Homo sapiens: one gene and its partner. The protein of the gene in region 2 purifies or fractionates together with the protein of the main gene of each other region. This does not show direct contact. Each region holds a gene or a part of one and is shown on either strand. Other genes may lie near its edges. The genes, in order: SLC16A10 and KEL.

Region 1 (3,826 bases), on a different chromosome or scaffold from region 2:
GAGGCCAAGGCAGGAGAATCATTTGAGCTCAGGAGTTCCAGACTAGCTTGGGTAACATAGCAAGACCTTGTCTCTACTAAAAATAAAAAAAATTAGCCTGGCATGGTGACACATACTAATATTAGTGTAGTCCCACCTACTCCAGAGGCGGAGGCGAGAGGATCTATTGCGCCTGGGAGATCAAGGCTGCAGAGCCGTGATAGCACCACTGCACTCCAGCCTGGGTGACAGAGTGAGACCCTGTCTCAAAATAAAAGGTCATATATCGTATGATTTATTTCATGTGAAATATCCAAAATAGGTAAATTCATACAGATAGAAAACTGGTGACTGCCAGGGGCTGGAGAGAAAGGGATTGGGAAGTAACTACTTAATTGGAATGAAGTGTCCTTTTGGCATGATGAAAATATTTTGGAACTAAATAGAAGCAGTGGGTGCAAAACATTGTGTATGTGCTAAATGCCACTGAATTGTTCACTTTCAAATGGTTAATTCTATTTCATGTGAATTCCACCTCTAGAAATTCTCTGAATGATATTATAAAGATGTCCTATGTTCAGTATTACTTGGGTGCCTGTGTCAATTAGTATTAGAAGATTCAGTATAAATATGATAAAATTTAAATGTGTGTACTGTCATCTGTGTTTGGCACATGAGGTGCTCAGTGAAGGTTTAGCTCAATTCATTCTCATACCCTGAACTGTATTCCTAGTCATGAATCAAGCAAGCAGAGTTACTACTGAGCAGACCAAATCCAGTTTAAGTTCAAAAGGTCATGGTCTCCTTATAGGAGAACCCTCCATTCCTTCTTCTCTCCCGCAGGTAATATAGTATTCACTCTTCTTTCTATAGCCTACAAGCTTAGTTTTATAGTTTCTAAGTCCACAGCAGATTTTATATAAGCAGCACTCTAGTAGTAAATAGTTTTGCTACCAGAAGTGACAGTTAACAGAGCAAGAATAAGGGAGGTAACAGGAAACTTCTAAAGCAGGCAGAACACCACCACACAGCAACTGGCAGCAGAAAGCTGCTGGCTCACCAGGAGGCTCTGAGGGCATCATAGTATTACAGCAGAACATAATCATGAGTGTTCATAAGGAGGAAGAGTTCAGGAATGGTCTGATTCCAAAGATAGAAAACTTGTGCATTTACAGATATTGTCTATTTTATATATGCAGAATGGATGTACACATTTTTATGTGTTGGTACTTAATTGGACAAATGGTCAGCTATTTATTTAACAATGTCAGATAGATATTTAGTACAGTATATTCCCTGGACATTTTAGATAACTTAGGTTTTATAGTATAAGTTATAAGAGTTTAAAAACACTAAGATAACTTTTAAAACCATGAGTCCTGGAATTTGTTAGAGAAATTAGAAATGTTGAGTACCGTAAAAGTTTTCAGAAGCAGAACCCGAATATAGAATGCCATTAATAATTCTTATATACTTACATTTTCTTCCAGGTACTTATAAACCTTAGTCTATTTCCAAAATGTATTTAACAACCTAACTTTCATCCAAATTATTAAATTTAAAATTTTTCTTAATTTTGAATTATGATGTTAAATAGTTTTCATGTTATTTCATAAAAAACAAATACACCAAAGAGTAGTTTGAAAGCTGGGCATGGTGGCTCATGCCTGTAATCTCAGCATTTTGGGAGGCTGAGGTGGGAGGATTGCTTTAGCCTAGGAGCTTGAGACCAGCCTGGGTAATGTGACAAAACCCCATCTCTACAAAAAATATAAAAATTAGCCAGGCATGGTAGCATGCACCTGTAGTCCCAGCTACTCAAGAGGCTGAGCTGGGAGGATCAATTGAGCTTGGGAAGTCAAGGCCTGCATGAGCCATGATTATGCTACCGCACTCCAGCCTGGGTGACACAGTGAGACCCTGTCTCAAAAAAAAAAAAACGTCTACCTTTCTATCTTTTCAAGTAATGTCTTGGTATGAAAATCCAGAGGACTGTACTTTATGACAACGTTAAAGATATGAGATCTTTTTCTTCCTATCAAAAAGGGTTTATATTTCAGATCTGTTTCCTAAAAAAAAAAAAAAGTCTGATGTCTGAGATGTCTGAATCAGTCCTGTGGCTGATCTAGACCCCCTACAGAGCCACACTTGTTCTCCCTTGGTGACAGCTTTTTCCCTTCTCAGGGTTACTTCGTGACAAACTGGGCTCCTATGATGTGGCATTCTACCTCGCTGGAGTCCCTCCCCTTATTGGAGGTGCTGTGCTTTGTTTTATCCCGTGGATCCATAGTAAGAAGCAAAGAGAGATCAGTAAAACCACTGGAAAAGAAAAGATGGAGAAAATGTTGGAAAACCAGAACTCTCTGCTGTCAAGTTCATCTGGAATGTTCAAGAAAGAATCTGACTCTATTATTTAATATCTTACATACCTCCACCAGACTGGACTTGCTTTTTGAATTTTAAGCAAGTTTCCTTTCCTTTTATACAAATTGCAAATTTCATATTTTTTTAATCACATCCTAGGAATAGCACAATAATTGGGAAATAGAACCCTTATCACTAGAAGAACCATTTTCTGCCACTAAATATCTCTGATGTTTCCATGAGTCTGAGGGCAGAGACTCTGGTATATGAAAACGTCTGAAAGTCACATATTGTGAAAATTTGAAGCTATCTCAGTAAAAAGCAGCTTTGGAAACTGTGAATGATCTTTAGCTTGTACAAATGTTTAAAAATACCTCAGGCTATACTGAAAGGGTTGCAGTTTGGTTAGGAGTGGAAATATTTTGTTTGTTAATGATGTCTTCAGTTCTGGTACCTCTGTTTTACTTTCTTATGCTCTTTGGAAACTTTTTGCAAAATTTAAGCCTGGGTTCTAGATAATACCAGATCTACCTAAACCTCAAGTCTATGTTAAAGTTGCTTTCCTGCTGTTAAATAAGCTATGATATTAAGATATTCTGACTTGCTCCAGTGTCAAGGGACCTTCTGGGAGCAGGTGCTAACATAGTGTTCAGAATCAATATGTGAGATGAAAAGGATCCCCTCCAGGAGGATCCTGAGCTGTTCAGAAATCATTTAAGTTTACAGCGTTGTTCCCTTTGCGTTTGCAGTGCGTTTTACTCAAGTAGCCAGAAACACCCCACGTTTCTGAATTTGTTTAAACTGTAACAATAAAGTAAAATAGAATGCATGAAAGATATTCTGGCGATTGTAACTTAGAATTTTTCTGACTTCTGGATTTGTTGGCACTAGAACCTGATATTTAAAGTCTTACTGAGCAGCTATCAAGTGGCAGTTACAGGCACAAATTGGTGGAGGCTGGAGGATGGGGAGGGGAGCAAAACCCTTTATATTTGTGAAGAAAATATCTGTAGCTGATAGAAATAATTGCTTAAATTGGTTTATGAAATTAATGAGTCTGAAAAGGTTAAAAGCACTTATAAAAAGAACCAAGTCCTACATTTCCAGAACTTTCTGGCAAAAATTTGCACTCATATTATTTATCCTATGAACATTCCCATTGTTTTTTTTTGCTATTTATATACAGATTATCATAAGAAAGCTCTCAGTTTGAGGACCCAAAATAAAACCAAAGTCATGCCATGACCCATACTCATTTACAAAAACAAGAACACTTTCCTCTATCCCTAAAATTATGCTTTAGTACTTGAGGCCTTTAAAAGTTAGTGCTTTTGATTGTGAAGACATTCAGCAACTTACTTTGTCATACATGCAGTTGCACCTTACCACTTCTAATAGTGTCATATTTCATATTCAGGGGACTTAGATAATTTGCCTGTGGATGGTTCTTTTGCAGGAAAAAAAATCTACATTTTGACCATAC
Region 2 (2,701 bases):
TGCATACCTGCAGCGCGATGGCTAGCCCCCCAACGTCTGCAGCATTCTCTAAGAATGTGAGGGAGTCATTGAAGGAGGTTCTGCTAGGTAATGGAAAGGCAGCATAATGGCGCTTCAGGCACAGGTGAGCTTCCTGGAGGGCATGGTTGTCACAGGCGAGGCAGCCCCCAGGCAGTACTGTTGAAAATGGGACAAGAGAACATACAGCAAGAGAACATAGGGTTGGTGCTGCCTAGGTGAGGATGTGGGTGGTACCACAGACTGAATCAGCTCCCAGGAGCATGGCAAAGTTCCCAGGACTGCCCCACCTCAAACCCTCAAATAACCTCCCTTTCCCCTCCAGGCCTCCCTTGTGGTCTTCCCTTAGGTTCCCTATTATCCCACCTCCCAGTGGCCCCTGTTACCCACAGAGCTGGTAGAAGATGTGCAACAGCTCGTGGGCCATGATGCTGCCAGCAGCGCCAAAGTTCACGGCTCTAGGGAGACAAGGGCTTATTTGACCCCCAGAATCTCTCAGCATTTGTGACCCCAATTCTCCAACCGTAAGTCCCATCCATCATAACACCTGTCGGCCCCTCTTGGGAAACTCCCTACCTACCCTTACAGAGTGACCCATACCTGGGATAGCCAGGGTGGAAGAATGGGGGTTGGAGGAGTCCAGCTGGAAAGACTACCACATGGTCAGATACCGAATAGTAAGCATTGACGTCCCAAGGGGACACCTTCCACCTGTGGGAAGAGGACATGTGAACTCCAGCCCCCACCACGTATTGCCCTGCCACCCTGAGACCTACACAGTCCCTCCCAACTACCATTACTGTTCATGCTGCCTGCCCTGAGCCCTGGCTTCCTTTCCTGTGAATCATGGATGGGTCTCTCTGGGATGGAGTGCCTGTGTCTCCCCTGCTGTCATACCTGTGTTGGGGGTGAGGCTGCAAGAAGCTCTGGACAATTCTAGCTCGGAGGGACCGGACACAGCTCAGGACAGACTGCAGGAAGCTCGATCCAAGCTGTATCTGGGGAAGAGGCAGGAGGTGACTTGGGCACACAGAGACTTCTATAGATGCACGCTGACAAACACCAATGGGACCATTTGACCCCAAACAGGCAAGCCCTGACAGGCAGGCATCCAGGGATTAGGAGAGAGCAGCCCAATGGCATCACTACACAGCACACCCAGGCTTTACACATATCAGCACACAGATGAACACGCCCAGACAAGTCACAGGATGCATGCATGTGTGTTGGCACATGCGTTGGGACCTGAAAAGATTCTGTTCTTCTGCCAGCAAGACGTACAGTGTGGATATTTCCCCATCAACCCCAGCCAGCACCAGAGTAAGGACAGAGCTAAGTCACCCAGGGAAAACTGATTGTCCAACAAAGACTTAGGAGGGTCAGAGAAGTGACGAGAAGTCAAGGACTGAAAAGGAGCTGGAAAACACAGGGACCCACATCGTTGTATTCTTGTCGGGCCAGCTCTGGCTTCAGGGCCCATTCTGAAGCCCCCATCTCCACCTGCAGTTGAGCAACCTGGAGAGAGACACAGAAGAGGCTAGGAATACTCTCCGAGTCTACCAGAGGAAATTTCTCCCACTCGTTGCCCTGTCCCAGCCTCTCACATTGTTGCCAGTGTGAGTATACAGCCCAGTGGCTTCCCTACTTAGCATGTGCCTGGGGGGGCCTTTGGCATTTGCTTCCAATCCCCATCTCGCTTGTTCCAATACTCCATTCCCTGCACAGGCTCCCACACCAGCCAGGACGCCTGGCCTGACCTTGTCCTGGGCCATGTTCTGGGTCTCCTCATTCATCCAGGGAAGGTTTCTGAGGCGAGTGATGAGGGCATCCCGGATCGCAGTGAATAATTTCATGGCCTGTGGGAGTGAGGTCCAGGGACAGGGGGACAGGATCAGGAGAGGCCTCAGCCTGGCCCTGCCCACAGCTTCTGACCCTTGGAAAAGGGCTTGGCCCCAAGGAGCTGCCTGGGCTGGAGCTGCTGCTAGAGGAGCAGCTCAACTAAAGCAACTAAAGGATCTGTGGAGAAAGGAAGGCAGTGCCAAGCCCACAAAGGGAAGGTGGGGCCTGGCCATCCGTGAGGGCCATCAGGGAGATATAGTTCCTTTCCATGGGGAAATAGCCTGACACAGGAGAAAGACAGTGTCCTCACTCCTGGGGGCAGGAACACCTCTCAGAAATCAGAGGGAGGAGAGGGCTGTCATTTTCTCCTCTGGCTCAGGGCTCTTGTTCTCACACTGTCTTTTTTAAACCGTCCACTCCCTCTCCTCATCCTCCTGAGCTCTTCAGCTTCCCAGCAAGTCCCCCACAAGTCTCCCTGCCTTCACAACGTGAGTGTGTACTCACTGCTTCCCCAGCCACCTGCCATCTCATGTAAATCCTTTCCTGGAGGAAAATGAAAGGCAATATCGAGAGCCTGGGCTCTGGCATCAGAATGCCTGAGTTCAAACCCTGTCTCTGCTTTTTGGTAACTGTGTGACTTTGGGCAAGTCACTTAACCTCTCTTTGCTTCAGTTCCCTCTTGTATAAAATCAGGATCATAATAGGAACTAAATGACGTAGTTCATGCAAAGTTCTTGAAGGAGTCCCAGGCATGTGGTAGGTACTCAGAAAGTATTCAGTGGTGATTTATTTGATTTATTTGCCCTCTTCAAGATTATGTCATCTGTTCTGATGTCACGTCATG

What was found.
Region 1: the proteins of KEL (region 2) and SLC16A10 purify together in Homo sapiens (affinity purification with mass spectrometry; one large-scale study listed by BioGRID and IntAct). This does not show direct contact.

Annotation. Positions count from the first base shown.
Region 1 is NC_000006.12:111,219,840-111,223,665, forward strand, and holds part of SLC16A10 (monocarboxylate transporter 10), read left to right. Parts: intron 1-2,163; coding exon 2,164-2,396; 3' UTR 2,397-3,826. UniProt on the Homo sapiens protein: Sodium- and proton-independent thyroid hormones and aromatic acids transporter.
Region 2 is NC_000007.14:142,942,868-142,945,568, forward strand, and holds part of KEL (kell blood group glycoprotein), read right to left. Parts: intron 1,875-2,701; coding exon 1,776-1,874; intron 1,534-1,775; coding exon 1,456-1,533; intron 1,017-1,455; coding exon 916-1,016; intron 730-915; coding exon 619-729; intron 477-618; coding exon 409-476; intron 178-408; coding exon 8-177; intron 1-7. UniProt on the Homo sapiens protein: Zinc endopeptidase with endothelin-3-converting enzyme activity. Cleaves EDN1, EDN2 and EDN3, with a marked preference for EDN3.